Homo sapiens: one gene and its partners. The protein of the gene in region 3 interacts with the protein of the main gene of each other region in a biochemical or structural test. Each region holds a gene or a part of one and is shown on either strand. Other genes may lie near its edges.

Evidence for each region. The genes of interacting proteins can lie anywhere in the genome.
Region 1: the proteins of UBE2N (region 3) and NEDD4L form a complex in vitro, tested with the Homo sapiens proteins (one study listed by BioGRID).
Region 2: the proteins of UBE2N (region 3) and TRIM72 form a complex in vitro, tested with the Homo sapiens proteins (one study listed by BioGRID).
Region 4: of the proteins of UBE2N (region 3) and RIPK1, one has a biochemical effect on the other in vitro, tested with the Homo sapiens proteins (one study listed by BioGRID).

What each region holds. Positions count from the first base shown.
Region 1 is NC_000018.10:58,046,253-58,050,748, reverse strand, and holds part of NEDD4L (E3 ubiquitin-protein ligase NEDD4-like), read right to left. Parts: intron 3,524-4,496; exon of another isoform or gene 3,239-3,523; intron 1-3,238. UniProt on the Homo sapiens protein: E3 ubiquitin-protein ligase that mediates the polyubiquitination of lysine and cysteine residues on target proteins and is thereby implicated in the regulation of various signaling pathways including autophagy, innate immunity or DNA repair.
Region 2 is NC_000016.10:31,219,646-31,224,141, reverse strand, and holds part of TRIM72 (tripartite motif-containing protein 72), read right to left. Parts: intron 3,247-4,496; coding exon 3,224-3,246; intron 1,316-3,223; coding exon 1,197-1,315; intron 1-1,196. UniProt on the Homo sapiens protein: Muscle-specific E3 ubiquitin-protein ligase that plays a central role in cell membrane repair by nucleating the assembly of the repair machinery at injury sites.
Region 3 is NC_000012.12:93,434,599-93,439,901, forward strand, and holds part of UBE2N (ubiquitin-conjugating enzyme E2 N), read right to left. Parts: intron 1-5,303. UniProt on the Homo sapiens protein: The UBE2V1-UBE2N and UBE2V2-UBE2N heterodimers catalyze the synthesis of non-canonical 'Lys-63'-linked polyubiquitin chains. This type of polyubiquitination does not lead to protein degradation by the proteasome.
Region 4 is NC_000006.12:3,098,521-3,103,016, reverse strand, and holds part of RIPK1 (receptor-interacting serine/threonine-protein kinase 1), read right to left. Parts: intron 1-4,496. UniProt on the Homo sapiens protein: Serine-threonine kinase which is a key regulator of TNF-mediated apoptosis, necroptosis and inflammatory pathways.

The sequences.
Region 1 (4,496 bases), on a different chromosome or scaffold from region 3:
GCTCTTGTTGCCCAGGCTGGAGCACAATGGCCCGAACTTGTCTCACTGCAACCTCTGCCTCCCAGGTTCAAGCAATTCTCCTGCCTCAGCCTCCCGAGTAACTGGGATTACAGTTGCCTGCCACCAAGCCCAGCTAATTTTTGTATTTTTAGTAAAGACGGAGTTTCACCATGTTGGCCAGGCTGGTCTCAAACTCCTGACCTCAGGTGATCCTCCAGCCTCGGCCTCCCAAAGTGCTGGGATTACGGGCATGAGCCACTGCCCCAGCCTGTTATTATTGTGACAGAGTCTCACTCTGTCACCCAGTCTGGAGTGCAGTGGTGCGATCTCGGCTCACTGCAATCTCTGCCTTCAGGGTTCAAGCTATTCTCCTGCCTCAGCCTCCAGAGTAGCTGGGATTACAGGTGTCCACCACCACACCCAGCTGATTTTTTTTTCATTTATTTATTTATTTATTTTGTAGAGACAGGGTTTCACCATGTTGGCTGGGCTGGTCTCAAACTCCTGACCTCAAGTGATCCACCAGCCTTGGCCTCCAACGTGCTGGGATTACAGATGTGAGCCACTATGTCTGGCCTGAGCAAAATTATTTTTATTCCTTAAATTAAGGAAACTGATGTTCAATAATGAAATAAACAATCATAACATTCTGATTTAATAAAACTAAATATAATGAAAATTCAAATGTCAATGTCTACAAATTCCACAGACACTACATCATTGAAGAAAATAAATTCTATTCATTAGTCTTTTTTTTTTTTTTTTTTTTTTTGGAGACAGGGTCTCACTCTGTCGCCCAGGCTAGAGTGCAGTGGCATGATCTTGGCTCACTGCAACCTCTGCCTCCAGGTTTAAGTGATCCTTCCACCTCAGCCTCCCAAGTAGCTGGGACTACAGGCACGTGCCGCCATGTTTGGCTAACTTTTCTATTTTTTGTAGAGACGGGGTTTCACCACGTTGCCCAGCCTGGCCTCAAACTCCTGAACTCAAGTGATTCTCCTGCCTCGGCCTCCCAAAATGCTAGGATTACAGGAGTGATCACTGCACCCGGTCCCTATAATCAAATTTTAAAACAACATGTTATATTCATGAATTTTAAAAACTGATTTTAAATGTCACCATGAAAACTAGGTCCTTTTAACATTTGTTTCTCAAACATTACCTATATGTCCTGGGTATACAGTCTACCATCCAGCATCTAGGCCCGACACAGGCACTTGGACTTGGCATGACTGGGCAAGCCTTCTCTCTCTTCAGAAAACGGCCTGTCAGCATTCACCTTGAGATCCAAGCAAAATCTAAACCACAATTTTTGAAAGCAATCTTGTCCTCACCGTTTTGCACAGCTGCAAAGATGGCACATAGGGTTTCCCAAGTAATCTCTTGAAAATACACACAGGCCACTTTTTAAAAACTAACAACTATTCTTAATCACTTACAGACGGCCATCCAGTTGGCTATGATCTAGGCCCCCAGTTCCTTCTGTGCTAATGCCTATTTAAGAGCACTTCTCTTTTTCTAGCACTTTCCTCAAACACAGAAAAGCAGAAATCTGACTACTCGTTGACTTAAAAGTACTGAATGATTGGGGATATTGAAACTGATGGCATGGAGTTTTCCCAGGTTTCTAGTCACTGTAATTCATCAATTCTAAAATATCCTTTTTCTCATATTTCAACTTCTCTGAAATAAGGATGCTTCATAAGATGGACAGTATGTCATAACTTGACAGCAATTTTTTCTTCGTGGTACATGAAATAATGGCATATCTTAAAAGTGACAGCACACTAAAGTGAAAGAAATATGGCATCCACGCCAAAGGTTAGCCTTAAAGGTTTGTTATGAAGTGGATAATTATATGTAAACAAGTAGAAAGACCCCTAAGACAACAGAAAGTAGTGGTGACTGCAACCATAGCACAACTAGCTGCCACATCTCAAAGGACATAATGCCAGCCACTGACTGTAACTAGGTTAGAATGTGGCCCCAATTAAGCCAGATTTTTACCATTTTCATGAAATTTCCAAGCTTTAAAACACTCTAGAGACCACATTAAGCAGGGTTCCTGGTCAAATCGGGCCCAGCAGCCATCAGTTTGCAACCAGTGGTGTTTATTTCTCTTACATTATCTTAAATAATCTAGATAGTAAGACCTTTCAAGGCATTTGTCAGAAGGGGAGGATATTCAGCATGTTAAAAACTAGGCCTTTCTATTCAAAATAGCTGGCTCCATAACTTAACTTGTTTTGTGTCCTTATGCAGGTCACGTAACCTCTTTGAGCTTTCATTCCTCATCTGTAAATCACAGCCTACCTCACACAGTTCTCATGAGAACTAAATGACATAGTATGTGCACAAGGCTTAGCACTTTGCTCTCATGGCGCATCTTAAAAGTGACAGCATCTTAAACTGAAAAGCATACAGGATCCATGCCAAAAGTTAACCTTAATGGTTGATTAAGAAGTAGATAATTATATGTAAATGAGTAGAAAGACCCCCAAGCCAGCAGGGAGCCGTGGTGACTGGCACCTATAAGCAGATCTGCCACATCTCAAAGGACATAATGCAAGCCACTGATTGTGACTAGGCTAGAATGTGGCCCCAATTAAGCCGGATTTTTACCATTGGTATAGAAGAGGCATTCAAAAGTAGCCAACTATCCGTGTTTGTACAGGATAAGGAGAGAAGGTGCCATTTATCCTATGTCAGCCTGGCCTTCATTTCTATGCCATTTGCTTCATTTTAACTACTAACGAAATTACTTAATGTCATATCTAATGTGATAAGAAGCTGCCATTCAATCCCAGTATTTTGTTCAGTAGAAAAATCTTTTCAATAAATGATACCTTTCTAAAATGGAATAAAAGATTTCAGAAAGTTAGCGGTAACATTCATAAGTAAACTATGCCAAAATGCACTACAGATTGCCAAAAATAAAGAAATAAAACAAGAAATCCACAAGGACTCAAGCCAGATGCAGAAACTAGTCCAAAGTGTTCTGATTCCAAACCAAATCTGATCTTGGGCCATGAATCAGAAGTTTTGTTAAACTGCTAATCCCTCTAACACCAAAAGTCCTTCATCTGATGGTTTTGAATCTGGCTACCTAAAGTGACATGACTTAAATCAGGGTAAATATGAATTATAACTCACCAGAGAAACCTCCGCCCGAAACACACAGAAAAAATTAAACAGCACATACATTCACACAAGCAAAGCCCACATCTCAACCCCTTACCTTCTACAAAGTGGACAGACCTCTGCTGATGACGCAAGGAACAGCACCTAAGCCCTGTGCTTTGGCATCCCCGTTTTCTGGGTTCATGCAATGCTTCATCATCAGCAGTGCAGAGAGCTCAACAGTCTTTATGAGATGGGACATAACTAAGTGCACTCCAAACATACCATGCTTTTCAACAATCTCAAATCAAAATACGAATCTACTTTTAAGAAATGTGGTAGGTATGTGTGTCTACTTTGCTAAAAGATTTATGAGGTCACTCTTCTAAATAGCGGTCAAAATATCTTCATATGTGATATTCTGCAGCACACCAAGTCTGCAAACTAAGTGTACCCATATTTAATACGCCTTGGAAGAACAACCCTGCCGTTTGCTTCAGCGGGCATTCTACTTTCAGAGCCTGCTAAAATCTTCCATTGGTTTTTCTTACACATACTAATTCAGGGAGACAAAACAAGCTGTGCAAATTCAACAATTTGTCGTTAATATTCTACGAAGGCATTCCCTGATTCTCTGAAGGGCAACGTGACAGCATGAAACTGCCCATGAAAAACAAATACCAATGAAATGTGAAGTCATCAGAACTGCCCTGGCTTATTTTTTCACTGGTAGGAGAAAGTTGAAAAAGGAAGACGGCTGAGACTCATCTTGTGAAATACAATGTGTGTGGAACTAAATACTACCAGCGACATGGCAATAAATAGATAATAAAAGGTGTCTTCATCACCTCTTGCTATTTCCTATACAGCCCCAAATTCCCTTCTAGCAACATGCAGGAGTGAATCCAGTCACATGCCAACACACACTCGGACTCTGTTTACATTCCAAGCTTCACTTTCACACTAGACATCAGTTATGATGATTAGTAGTGACTCCTGTGGACAAAAGTGGCAAGATGTGCTCTAGGTAGATTCTGACACTCACTGCCAATGTAAATAAAGCACAAACAACAGTGACATTAACGTGTTTCATTTATCCAGCTGCACTTCCCAAAACACTCTTAAAATCGTTTTTTCGGGGGAGTTTTTACAAATAATCATGTTATTAAAACATTTTTTAAAAGAACCTAGGATGAAATGCAGCTGTCCTCACCCCCACCCCCCACAATACGTCAACCCAAGCAGCCCCTTTGTTTAGGAATGTCTGCGTCTCTGCAACTCAGGGCCTGCCCTCTACTGCCACTAATTAAATGGAGAAGTAGAGGATGCAAGGGAAAGCTCCTCAAAGAGAGAAGCCAGGAGGGAGAGGAGAAGCC
Region 2 (4,496 bases), on a different chromosome or scaffold from region 3:
CCTCGCTGGGGTCTTCTCCCAACCAATTGCAGGCCAGCTTTCTCTCCCCTAATCCTCTTGGCATCTCTGCTCACTGGGCTTGGGCCACAAGATCACACCTGGCTCAACTTCAGTTTGCCCAGCTGTGAGATGAGGCCATGATTGCTTCCCTCCAGGGTTGCAGGCAGGCCTGCATTTTCTTTTTGTTTTTGTTGTTGTTATTGTTGTTGTTTTTTGTTTTTGTTTTTTGTTTTTTTGAGGCGGGGTCTCACTCTGTCGCCCAGGCTGGAGCGCAGGTGCAACCTAGGCTCACTGCAACTTCCAACTCCCAGGCTCAAGCAATCCTCCCATCTCCCATCTCCCAAGTAGCTGGGACTACAGCCACGTGCCACCACACCTGGCTAATTTTTTTAAGTTTTTGTAGAGACAGGTGTTCTCACTATGTTGCCCAGGCTGGTCTCCAACTCCTGGGCTCAAGTGATCCTCCCACCTCGGCCTCCCAAAGTTCTGGGATTACAAGCGTGAGCCACCGAGCCTGGCCAACAGGACTAAATTGATACAAGGCATGGGACTCACCATCTGAGGCCCAGACAAGGCCCAAGGCCCAAGGTCAAGGAGCCTGATCTTCACATCAGCCTAGACCCAGTCTCTGAGCCTTAGTTTTATCTTGAATAAAATGAGGCTGTCTGCATTCCCACCTGCGCTGAGGCAGGAAGGGCTGCCCCAGCAATGTGTATGTCCCAGAGCTCTGTAACCTGCATCATCCAGCTCTTGGGGGGAGGAACTGAGCCCTTGGGCCTCCCCAGCCACAGGCCGCCAGAGTCACTCTCTGACCCAGGCCAGTCCCCAGGGTTCCAGGAGCTCTGCAGAGCCTCAGTCCCCAATTGGCAGGATTTATCATCTCCACCGTCCAGAGAGGGGCAGAGACTGACCAAGGATCACACAGCAAGTCAGTGGCTCAGACCTAGGCCCCAGCGTCCCGTGCCACCAACAGCAGCAGCATTTTCATGTCAGTCACCCACTGCAAACCCCATGCTCTCAAAGGCCCTCCTCCCAACACAGGTTAGAGGACTGCAGCGGCAGTCCAGAGGCAAAGGGGCAATGGGTACCTCCTTCAGTGGCCTCCCCAGTTGGGACTGGGAGGCCTCTCCAGGGTGGCTAGGGCCTCCCATCAACTGCCTGGTCACACACAAACCTGAGCCAGTCCCTCCCGGTACCTGGCATCAGAGCCCGGAACATCTTCCTCCACACCTGGAATTTGAAGTCATCTGAGATAATTGGCAGCTGGATGTCCAGACGGGCGGGTGGGGGAGACTCTGCCAGGATCTTCTGCAGCCTGGGGGTGGGGAGGGGAAGGGGAGGCATGTGTGAGGGGGGAGGACAAGGGCTGGGGGGATTCCAGGATCTCCCCACATCGCACCCCTGCTTAAAACTCTTCCTTTGGAGTTTTGGTTTGGGAAGATGAGAAAATTCTGGAGATAAACACTGGTGATGGTTGTACAATGTGAATGTACTTAGCACCACTGAATTTAAATGCACACTTAAAAATGCTTAAAATGAGCGAGGTAGAGTGTAGTCCCAGCTGCTCAGGGAGGCTGACTCAGGAGGCTCACTGGAGCTCAGAAATTTGAGTCCAGTCTGGGCAACATAGCAAGATCCTGTCTAAAAAAAAAAAAAAAAGAAGAAGAAGAAGCTGAAAATTGTCAATTTTATGTTACATGTATTATTTTACCACTGTTTATTTGGTTTTGGTCTTTTTTTTTTTTTTTTGAGATTGAGTCTGGCTCTATCACCCAGGCTGGGGTGTAGTGGCATGATCTTGGCTCACTGCAGCCTCTGCCTCCCCAGTTCAAGCAATTCTCCTGCCTCAGCCAACCAAGTAGCTGGGATTATAGGCGCCTACCACCATGCCTGGCTAATTTTTGTGTTTTTAGTAGAGGTGAGGTTTTGCCATGTTGGCCAGGCTAGTCTCGAACTGCTGACCTCAGGTGATCTGCCCGCCTCAGCCTCCCAAAGTGCTTGGATGACAGGCGTGAGCCACTGCACCCGGCCCAACTACATTTTCTTTTAATCCTTCTGTTGGGATAAGGTCCAAGCCTCTCAGCTTCGCCAGTGTGCACACACCTACTACCGCAGCTTCCTCTTCCCTCCCACTCGCCAGCCCTCTCGCTGGCTGTCCCCTCTCCCAGCAATGCCATTCTCCCAGCAACACCCTTCTCCCAGCAATGCCCTTCTCCCAGCAACACCCTTCTGCCAGCAACACCCTTCTCCCAGCAACGCCCTTTTCCCTGCAATGCCCTTCTCCCCACAATGCCCTTCTCTCTGCAATGCCCTTCTTCTCCCAGCAATACCCTTCTCCCCGCAATGCCCTTCTCCCAGCAATGCCCTTCTCCCAGCAATGCCCTTCTCCCCACAGTGCGCTTCTTCTCCCAGCAATGCCTTTCTCCCCGCAATGCCCTTCTCCCCACAATGCCCTTCTTCTCCCAGCAATGCCCTTCTCCTAGCAATGCCCTTCTTCTCCCAGCAATGCCCTTCTCCCAGCAATGCCCTTCTCCCAATGCCCTTCTCCCCAGCAATGCCCTTCTCCCCGCAGTGCCCTTCTCCCCACAATGCCCTTCTCCCCACAATGCCCTTCTCCCTGCAATGCCCTTCTCCCCATAATGCCCTTCTCCCAGCAATGCCCTTCTTCTCCCAGCAATGTCCTTCTTCTCCCAGAAATGCCCTTCTCCCAGCAATGCCCTTCTCCCAGCAGTGCCCTTCTCCCCGCAATGCCCTTCTCCCCATAATGCCCTTCTCCCAGCAATGCCCTTCTTTTCCCAGCAATGTTCTTCTCCCAGCAATACCCTTCTTCTCTCAGCAATGCCCTTCTCCCCGCAATGCCTTTCTCCTCACAATGCCCTTCTTCTCCCAACGCTTTGCCTAGCCAGCTCCTGTTCATCCCTCCAGGCCCCAACTCAAACATTCACTCCATCCCTGGCCACCTCTTTCCCTCAACGGCCACACTGAGCACACAGTGACGCCTGTGTCCCCACCCACATGTGTCTCACGGCACCAATCTAGGAGGTCCCTGAGTGAAAGGATCCTTCCAGATCATTTCTGTCTACAACCTTGTGTTCAGGCAGGGGTGGGGCAGCAGACTGAATTGCGGGTGTGCAGGCACAATAGTGAGTGGAGAGTGAGCCGGCTGGTGTCCCTAGAAGACTGGGACAAGTCGGGCAAAGGGACAGGGCCAGGTTGCTCTCACCTGCTGGTCACCAGGCAGTATTTCTGGAGAGAGAGAAAAAGAGAATGGTGGTGAAGCCGATGGTGGGGACACTGGAAACTTTTGAGGATGGGGTAGACAACTAGGAATGCTGAGTGCAACGTCAGAAAGAATCAGAAAAGCTAAAAGAGGCCAGACGAGGTGGCTCATGCCTGTAATCTCAACACTTTGGGAGGCCAAGGTGTGTGGATTGCTTGAGGCCAGGAGTTCGAGACCAGCCTGGCCAACATGGTGAAACCCCATCTCTACTAAAAATACAAAAAAAATAGCTGGGCATGGTGGCAGGCACCTGTAATCCCAGCTACTTGGGAGGCTGAGCCACGAAAATCACTTGAACCCGGGAGAAGGAGGTTTCAGTGAGCCGAAGTCATGCCACTGCACTCCAGCCTGGGCAACAGAGCAAAGCCCTGTCTCAAAAAAAAAAAAAAAAAAAAAAAAAAAAAACGCAAAAGAGACCTAGAACTCAAGGCCACCCCTACCCCTTCACTTTTATGTGGATTACAAAAAGGTATCTTTGCCTCCAAGAAACTCTGATTCCACCTGTTAGAAAACTGTCCTAATAGGCCGGGTGCGGTGACTCATGCCTGTAATCCCAGCACTTTGGGAGGCCAAGGCAGGCAGATTGTTTGAGCCCAGGCATTTGAGACCAGTCTGGGCAACATAATGAGACCCCCATCTCTACTAAAAATACAAAAACTAGCCAGGTAAGCGCCTGTAGTCCCAGCTATGGGAGGCTGAGATTGGAGGATTGCTTGAGCCTACAAGGCTGCAGTGAGCTATGATCATGCCACTGCACTCCAGCCTGGGTGACAGAGTGAGACCCTGCCTTTAAAAAAAAGACCAGGCGCGGTGGCTCACGCCTGTAATCCCAGCACTTTGGGAGGCTAAGGCAGGTGGATCACAAGGTCAGGAGATCAAGACCATCCTGGCTAACACGGTGAAACCCTGTCTCTACTGAAAAATAGAAAAAATTAGCCAGGCGTGGTGGCGGGTGCCTGTAGTCCCAGCTACTCGGGAGGCTGAGGCAGGAGAATAGCATGAACCCAGGAGGCGGAGCTTGCAGTGAGCCAAGATCCTGCCACTGCACTCCAGCCTGGGTGACAGAGTAAGACTCCATCTCAAAAAATAAAAAATAAAAATAAGAGTGTCCTAATAAATATATAAACCTACAATGTCTATGATATGAATAGTGCTCACTTAATACAATGTCCTTATGCAGTGCTCAACCTAAACAACCATATAGCAGTCCTGAGGC
Region 3 (5,303 bases):
AGCCTGAAAGTTTAATCACTATCAAAAGCAGTTCAAGGATTCTTAACATGGAGCACATGGAGACCTAGGGAATCCACAAATAAACTTGGCAAGAATCTGAATCCCCAGAAGTCATACGTTAAAAAAAATAGCTTTTTTTCCTAGGAAGAGGTCAGAAAATTCTTAAGTGAGACAACTGAAAGAACTAAAGAACCACTGTTCCTAGTCAAATTTTTTACAAGTTTTTTCTTAAATTCCAAAGGTGATTTTAATTACAACTTATAACAAATCTGTCTTCATCATAATGAGTTTGTATTTATTTATTTATTTATTTATTTATTTAAGAGACAGGGTCTTGCCTCTATTACCCAGGCTGGGGTGCAGTGGTGCCACTAATAGCTCACTGCAGCCCCGGCCTCCTGGATTCAAGGGATCTTCCTGCCTCAGTCTTCTGTTAGGATTACTGCATGAACCACCATACCTGGCTAAGTTTCCCTGCCCCCACCTGGAGGTACATATATTTCTGAAACATCATGGTAACTTTTCCATGCCTTTTTTTAATTGGAAGAAAACATTATCAGACAAGTATTTTCAGAGCTTAAAACAACAGATAGGACAGGCGCGGTGACTCACACCTGTAGTTCCAGCACTTTGGGAGGCCGAGGTGGGCAGATCACCAAAGGTCAGGAGTTCGAGACCAGCCTGACCAACATGGTGAAACCCTGCCTCTACTAAAAATACAAAAATCAGCTGGGCGTGGTGGCATACACCTGTAATCCCAGCTACTAGGGAGGCTGAGGCAGGAGAATTGCTTGAACCCAGGGGGCAGAGGTTGCAGTTAGCCGAGATCACGCCATTGCACTCCAGCCTGGGCAACAAAAGCAAAACTTCATCTCAAAATAAGAAAAAAAAAATGTTCAAGGCAGAGAGTAAAGCTACTCCAGTGGCTGAGGCAGGAGAACTGCTTGAACCTGGGAGGCAGAGGTTGTAGTAAGCCGAGATTGTGCCATTGCACTCCAGGCTGGGCAACAAAGCAAGACTCCCGTCTCAAATAAATAAAAGGTGAGTTTTCTAAATCACTTTTCTTACAAAAAAAAATACCTTATGCACTAGAATACCTATCAAATGAGTGGCTTTTAAACAGTAACAGGAAAAAATGTGTGTACTTCAAAAAATCCTATTAAAAAAGTAAACTCAAGTCTCAATGTAAAATCAGACTGTATCTGATTTTTAAGAATTTGAGGCTAAATCACACCAAATAGAAGAGTAAATTTTTCCACTGCACTTCAGCCTGGGTGACAGAGACCCTGTTTCAAAAAATTAATTAAATGTATTTTCTTAAGTAAATTTTTAAGCACCATAGACAAGGGACCAGTGGGGAAGGGAGACATAAAGTAAATTCTGCGAAAGACTGGTAAAATTCTAATTCCAGCAGGTTGACTCACTAGGTTTTAATCAAATAAGTCAACCCCTAGGGTAAGTTAACTACTTTTTCCCAAGACTGTATTTTATCATTTTCATTATTATCATTATTACTATTTTGAGACAGGGTTTCACTCTGTCGCCCAGGCTGGAGTGCAGTGGCGCGATCTAGGCTCACTGCAGCCTCAACTTCCTGGGCCAAACCAATCCTCCCACCTGTCTCCTGAGTAGCTGGGACTACAGATGTGTGCCACAACACCTGGCTAATTTTCATTTTATCTTTTTGTAGAGACAAGGTCTCATTATGTTGTACAGCCCAGTCTTGAAACCTTGGGCTCAGGGGATCCTCCCGCCTCAGCCTCCCAAAGTACTGAGATTATAGGCATGAGCCACAGTGCTCAGCCCTCATGATTAATTCTGAAAAGACCATTAAAGGAATGTCAGTCACTGTATCAACGTAACATGTAAAGCTGAAACAGATTTGGTTTTGACCAAGGCCATAACTATAGATCTCACTTATCGGTTCCCGAAAGTGATTCTCCTTTATGACAGGATTATGCAGAACCTCTCATTTGAGGGACATTTTAGGTACCTCCTAACCTTTATGACTTTAAGCTTTAACTGCTCACTTTTTTTTTTTTGGTGGAGATGGAGATCTCACTATGTTCCTCAGGCTGGTCTCAACTCCTGGCTTCAAGCAATCCTTGGGCCTCAGTCTCCCAAAGAGCTGTTATTACAGGTGTGAACCACCATGCCCAGCTTCAGTCACTTTTATTGGCTAAAAGAGCTTTGGTCCAGAAGATAAGGCAGAAAAACGAAACTAAAGATTCTAGCTTAAAACAGAACTACTAAGACTCAATATCACTCACACTTGTGCAAAATGCCATACATACAAAACTTCGTTACAGCATTTTTTATATAGCACAATTTAGGAAACATTCTGAAAGTTATGAATAAGCAATTAGTTACAATAAAGTCTAGGCCAGGCACGGTGGTTCATGCCTGTTAACCCTAGCACTTTGGGAGGCCGAGGTGGAAGAATCACTTGAGCCTAGGAGCTCGAGAACAGCCTAGGCAACATGGCAAGACCCCATCTCTACTGAAAAAGTATTAAATTTCCAATATTTGAAAAAATAAAATAAAGTCTAACCATAAGGTTCCATTAAACAGCCCTTTGAGAAAAAAAAAAGAGCCAAAGCAGAACACTATGATGCATGTCTGTAATCCCAGATACTGGAGGCTGAAGGTAGAGATCACCTGATATTAGGAATTCGAGGCTGTATGTATATAGTGTACTATGATCACGCCTGTGAAAAGCCACTGCACTCCAGCCTGGGCAACAAAGCAGCAGTCTGTCTCTTAAAAAAAAAAAAAAGTCAACTTGAAGATACATAGGTGGTTAGAGGGGAAGAGAAGGGAATCAAGGTATTTGCATGAGAAGGAGAAGACGCCTAACTTATAGCAGAAAGTTGCTCTGGTCTTCTTGTAAGGATACACAATAAAAATAGTGGTTGAAGTCGGGTGCAGTGGCTCACACCTGTAATCCTAGCACTTTGGGAGGCTGAGGCAGGTGGATCACTTGAGAAGAGGAGTTTGAGACCAGCATGGCCAACATGGTGAAACCCCATCTCTACTAAAAATTAGCCAGGTGTGGTGGCACATGCCTGCAGTCTCAGCTACTTAAGAGACTGAGGCAGGAGAATCACTTGAACCTGGGAGGTGGAGTTTGCAGTGAGCCAAAATTGCACCACTGCACTCCAGCCTGGGCAACAGGGGGAGACTCCGTCTCAACAAACAAACAAACAAACAAAAACAGTGGTTTTCTAAGCAGGGGAACTGGAATGCTGAAGGACAGATGAGGGATTCTCTACGTATCCTTCAGAGCCTTTCAAATGTGCTCTATGTGTGCATTTCCTAGTTAATAAAAAAAGATACATAAGCAGAGTAGGCACACAAAAAAGAAATAATGTAAAAGATTGATGTCCTTTTTAAGTGAGCTTATGGGTGGAAAACGAGACTAGCTTTAACTTTTAGCTCAGACATTGGTTCAGACAGAATATACCAAGGAGTAACAATGTCAAATTATTGCTCATTGAGATTAAGGCTCATCTATTCAGTTAGTCTATTAATATTTCAGTATCTACTATGTGCCAAGGATTGGTCTAGGCACGAATGAGCAATGCCCGGGATATCCAAGAGTCCCTAACTTCATGAAGGTTTAATGGGGAATAGAGAGAAATAAACAGTAAATAACATAACTTCGAACAGTAATAAGCACTTATACAGAAGAAAGGGAGATAGGAGGATAAAATTGTGGGGGAGGAAAAAGGGAAACTGGTTTATACGGGACAGGTTAGGTAGAGGGTATGACATATGAGCTAAGAACGGAACAACTGGACAAAGCAAGCAATGCAACAAACTGGAGGAAAGTCCTGTGACTGGAATAAGCTCAACCACTTATTGTTCAGGGTACAGCAAAGCAACAGTGTGGCTACAGTGGAGTGACCCAGAGAGAGAAGTGCAGATGCGCTCAGAAGTAGGCATCCCAAATGAATGCAGGGCCTTATAGCTAAGGGGTGGGGGGGAAGGCAAGATTCTAATGTAAGTGTGATGGAGAACCTCTACAGTTTTTAGCAGGGGAGTAACATGGTCTATATTTTAAGAAGATAACACTAGCTGCTGCTCCAAAGTAGGCTAATACAGGAGGCCAGGCAGTAAATGATGGAAGTGAACAGAGGTTTGAAAGACAGGGGGGAAAGTGTCTGATTTAGTACATATATTGAAAGCAGAACCTACAGAATTTGCTACTGGATTAGATACAGGAATCTAAATGAGATAGCAACTGGGTGAATAGTAGTCCAGAAAATCATCTTGTATTTGTAGTTAGTCATTTTACAGTAACAAGAGACAGGGGAATGTTACACTAATCAAGATCCAAATTCTGCCTCTTACCAGCTTTACCTTAGGAAAGTCATTTAAGTCAGTTTCTAGACTGCAAAATATATTGTCTAGTTCACAAAAATGTCTGTAAGAATCAAATGGTTAAGAAATCTACAAATGTAAATAGTGATCATTATAAGTTAGAAAGCATCATATTAACAGTCATGCAAATCAAGCCACCTTATTTTAACATTTTCATTAGATGAGAATGCTAACACTGATGTTATATCAACACTAAATTTCATCCTTTGAAAGTCAAAGGTCAGGCGGGGCACAGTGGCTCACGCCTGTGATCCCAGCACTGTGGGAGGCTGAAATGGGTGGATTGTGTGAGGTCAAGAGTTTGAGACCAGCCTGGGCAACATGGCGAAACCCCGTCCCTACAAAAATTAGCTGGGTGTGGTGGCATGCACCTTGCAGTCCCAGCTATTGAAGAGGCTTAAGTGGGAGGATCATCTAAGACCAGGAGATCAAGGCTGTGGTAAGCCATGATCCTGCCACTGCACTGCAGCCTGGGAGCGGAGTGAGACGAGTCTCAAGAAAAGAAAACAGAAAGAAAAGAAGAAAGTCAAAGATCACCCAGAAATAAAACAAATTAACAGTCCAATCAACAAAGTCATGTCCCTATTGCCTCAGGACAATACCGTTACCCCCATCCACCACACAGAAGTTTGTATAGTGATTGACAGAAAAGAGGCAACTTTTAAAAATAAATTCTGATTTTTTTTAAAGCATTGTCACTGATTATGGAACAACCTACATAACACAAGCATGGACACTTTTAAAAATCTAGTCTTTTAGTCTTCTGTTTAAGGATTAGAGAAAACCATCCTTTTAAGCTATAAATGACACTAAACTAGTAAGATAAAACCCAAATCAAGGTGTCATTCATTAGATAGATGTTGTCAACAAGATACCGTAAAATTAAGATTATATATCACAGTATGAGTTACTGTCTTAGT
Region 4 (4,496 bases), on a different chromosome or scaffold from region 3:
TAAATAAAAAGTGTTGGTAAGATGGTGGAGAAATTAGAATCCTTGTGCATTGCTGGTGGGGAATATAAAATGGTGTAGCTACCATGTAAAACAATTTTAACAGTACTTAAAAGTTAAACATGGCCGGGCATGGGAGCTCACGCCTGTAATCCCAGCACTTTGGGACCTCAGATCACCTGAGGTTAGGAGTTTGAGACCAGCCTGGACAACATGGTGAAACCACCCCATCTCTACTAAAAATACAAAAAACTAGCCGGGCGTGGTGGTGTATGCCTGTAATCCCAGCTACTCGGGAAGGTGAGGCAGGAGAATCGCTTGAACCCGGGAGGCGGAGGTTGCAGTGAGCCGAGATGGTGCCACTGCATTCCAGCCTGGGCAACAGAGGGAGACTCTGTCTCAGAAAAACAAAAAGTTATACATAGAATTACCATATGATCTAGCAATTCCACACCCGGATATATATACCCCAAAGAACTGAAGGCAGGAACTCAAAATATGGTGCAGGTGTAGTATCCCTTATCCAAAATGCTTGGGATTAGAAGTGTTTTGGATTTTGGATTGTTTCCAATTTGGGAATATTTGCATGTACAGAATGACAGATCGTGGGGAGAGGACCTAAGTCTAAACATGAAGTTTATTTGTGTTTCATATGCACCTTATACACATAGCCTGAAGGTCACTTTATACCATATTTTAATAATTTTGTGCATGAAACAAAGTTTGAGGATACTGAACTATCAGAAAGCAGAGGTGTCAGGTGTGGTATTTTCCACTTGTGGCATCATGCTGGCACTCAAAACGTTTCAGATTTTGGAGGATTTTGAATTTTGGATTTTGGGTTTAGGGATGTTCAACCTGTATATCCATATGATGGAATGTTATTCAGCCATAAAAGGGAATGAAATTCTGATACATGCTATGAAACAGATGAACCTTGAAAACATTATGCTAAGTGAAATATGCCAGACTCCAAAGGAAATACATTGTGTGATCCTTTTGCTAGGAGCTACCTAGAATTCAGAGACAGAAAACAGAATAGAAGCTACCAGGGGCTGGGAGAGGGAGGAATGGGGAGTTACCGTTTAGCAGGTACAGAGTTTCAGTTTGGGATGATAAAAAAGTTCTAGATATAGATAGTGGTAATGGCCGCACAACATTATGAATGTACTTAATGCCACTGGATTGTTCACTTAAAAATGGTTAAAATAGAGAATTTTATGTTAAGTATATTTTGCCACAGTAAAAAACTTTTTCCTTATAGGAGCAATAATCCTCATTATAGAAAACATAGAAAATTATATATTCTTAAAACCTATCCATAGTTTTGCCCTACACCCAAAGATAAAATGTTAACACTTTGGTATTTTTCCTTCAAGTTTTTTTTTTCCTAGTTTTATTTGTATTTTGCTGTTAACGATTGTCTGCTATATAAATAAGTGGTCAAAAATACTAGCTAAATGAATACATGCATGATCTAGGGGAGAATGACAGAGGGTATTAATTATGTTCACACTTTGTAGCATTCTATATATTGTTTTTGTCTCTTTGCATGTTTATTTTTAGAGATCAAATCTGCCTCTGTCGCCCAGGCAGGAGTGCAGTGGCATGGTCATAGCTCACTGAAACCTCCAACTCCTGGGCTCAAGCAATCCTCCCAGCTTGTCCTCCCAAAGAGCTGGGATTACAGGCATGAGCCACCTCACCCAGCTGTATGTTTATTGTTTTTAATTAACATGAAAAGGGTTTTTTGTTGTTTTTTTTCTTGAGACAGAGTCTCACTGTGTCCTCCAGGCTAGAGTGCAGGCTCAACCTCCAGGCTCAAGAGAGCCTGCCACCTCAGCCTCCTGTGTAGCTGGGACAACAGGCATGCGCCACCACGCTTGGCTAATTTTTGTGTTTTTTGTAGAGATCGGTTTTTGCCATGTTGCTGGTTTTGAACTGGCCTCAAGAAATCCACCCACCTCAGCCTCCCAAAGTGCTGAGATTACAGGCACGAGCCACCCTGCTTAGCCTAATATGAAAAGTATTTTTGTTATTTTAATTTTATCAAATTGATTTTCTTTTTATAGTTATTTTTATTACACAAATATGTTAAGTACAAAGTCCTTTTGAAAGATTCAAACAGGCCAGACATGGTGGCTCACGCCTGTAATCCCAGCACTCTAGGAGGCCGAGGCGAGCAGATCGCTTGAGGTCAGGAGTTCAAGACCAGCCTGGCCAACATGGTGAAACCCCATCTCTACTAAAAGTACAAAAAAATTAGCTGGGTGTGGTGGTACACGCCTGTAATCCCAGCTACTCGGGAGGCTGAGGCACGAGAATCACTTGAACCCGGGAGGTGGAGGTTGTAGTGAGCCCAGATTGTGTCACTGCACTCCAGCCTGGGTGACAGAGTAAGACCGTCTCAAAAAGAAAACCAAAAAAACCCCCAAAGATTCAAACAATGCAGAATCACATAGAATAACATCCAAACATTCCTTCAGCACCTACTCTTCCATTCTCTAGAGGTAAGCCTTATCCAGAGTGTGATGCATATCACTCTTATTCTCTCTCTAGGAATTTGCACACACATTCCAGAAATATATATATATTTGAGACACAGTTTCACTCTGTTGCCCAGGATGGAGTGTAGTGGCACAATCTTGGCTCACTGCAACCTCCACCTCCCGGGTTCAAGCAATTCTCATGCCTCAGCCTCCTGAGTAGCTGGGATTATGGACATGCACCACCATACCTGGCCAGTTTTTTTTGTATTATTAGTAGAGACGGGGTTTTACCATGTTGGCCAGCTGGTCTCCAACTCCTCACCTCAAGTGATCTGTACAACTCCGCCTCCCATAGTGCTGGAATTACAGGCATGAGCCACTGCACCAGGCCAAAATATATATATCTTTAACATTAAAAGGACCACACTGTAAGTATTGTTTTGTGACTTATTTTTTTCACTAACAGCTAATCTTGAAGATCTTTCTATATCATTACATGTTAGTTTCCACCTCTTTCTTTTAAATGGCTATTAGTATTCTGTAGTTTAGATGAATCATAATTTAGGGCAGTTACTTATGGACATTTGAGTTGTTTCTAATTTTTCACTCTTATAAACTAAGGTGCAAAGAATGGAAACTACATCTTTGAGTGCACGTGAGCAGTATAGATTACTGAGAGTAGAACTGCAGCCAAACTTATGGGCTTGTGGAGTTTGTTGGGTGCCTCACCTTCTAATAAACTTCGCCACTCTTACCAACACTGCAGAAGACTGCTTGTTATTCTGCATTTTCACCAACACACTGTATCACTAATCTTTCAAAAATTTCAATCTAATGGATGAAAAATTGTAACGGGTTCATTTTGCCTTTCTCTGTTGGCGAGGCCAAATATCTTTTCTGAAGTATGTTGTTCAGTTTCTTTTTTGAATTGTCTATGTTCTTTGTCTATTATTTTTCTTTTATTTTGGTTTTTTTGTTTGTTTTTTTGAGACGGAGTCTCACTTTGTCACCCAGGCTGGAGTGCAGTGGCTCCATCTCGGCTCACTGCAAGCTCCGCCTCCTGGGTTCACACCATTCTCCTGCCTCAGCCTCCCAAGTAGCTGGGACTGCAGGTGCCTGCCACCACGCCTGGCTAATTTTTTGTATTTTTAGTAGAGATGGGGTTTCACCATGTTAGCCAGGATGGTCTCGATCTCCTGATCTCGTGATCCACCAGCCTCGGCCTCCCAAAGTGCTGGGATTACAGGCGTCAGCCACCGCACCCGGCCTATTTTTGTTTTTTATTTGTAGGCACTCTATTAAATATCCTGGATATTAATCCTTTGCTAAACACAATTTCTCCTTTTTGACTACCTTTCCATTTTCATGAAGTCATATACAATAATCTTTTTCTTTATACCTTGCGAATTTTGTGTGTGGCTTAAGAAACATACATGGATTGATTTTGGACTTTGTGGTAGACACAGTGATGGGCCTCTCAGATTCCCCCTCAAGGAGGGATTTGCTGCCCTGTTGCAAGGAGCTGAGTGAACAAACAGCCTGCAGCTGTGAACTCCTTTGCCCCAGGTACTCCCCTTCTGAGCCAGTGACTGAGAAAGGCGAGGGGATAAAGCCTTGGCCATTTCAGTCTGACGTGGGACAAGCCTGAGGGGCATTTGCTCAGTGCTCCCGGCTGCCAGAGCTGTCAGGCTTCGTTGCCTTCTGACTTCTTCCTCTGCTCATTCCTGCTTCCCACTCCTTCCTTGCACCCCAATCTCCAACTCAGTGGCTGCTTCTGGAAAACCCAACCTGCAAAGACTCACCTTTTCTATTAATCTATTTGATTATCCTTGCTGTAGTCTACACTGTTCTGATCTCCTCCTTCAGAATTTTCTTAGCTATCTTTGTACATTTTGTGTAACTTAAGAGTCAGCTTGTTGAATTCCATAAAGAATTTGGTTGTGCTTTTAATTAGGATTGCACTCCTTTTATAAATCATGTTGGGGAGAATAGACAGCTTTAGTATGTCAA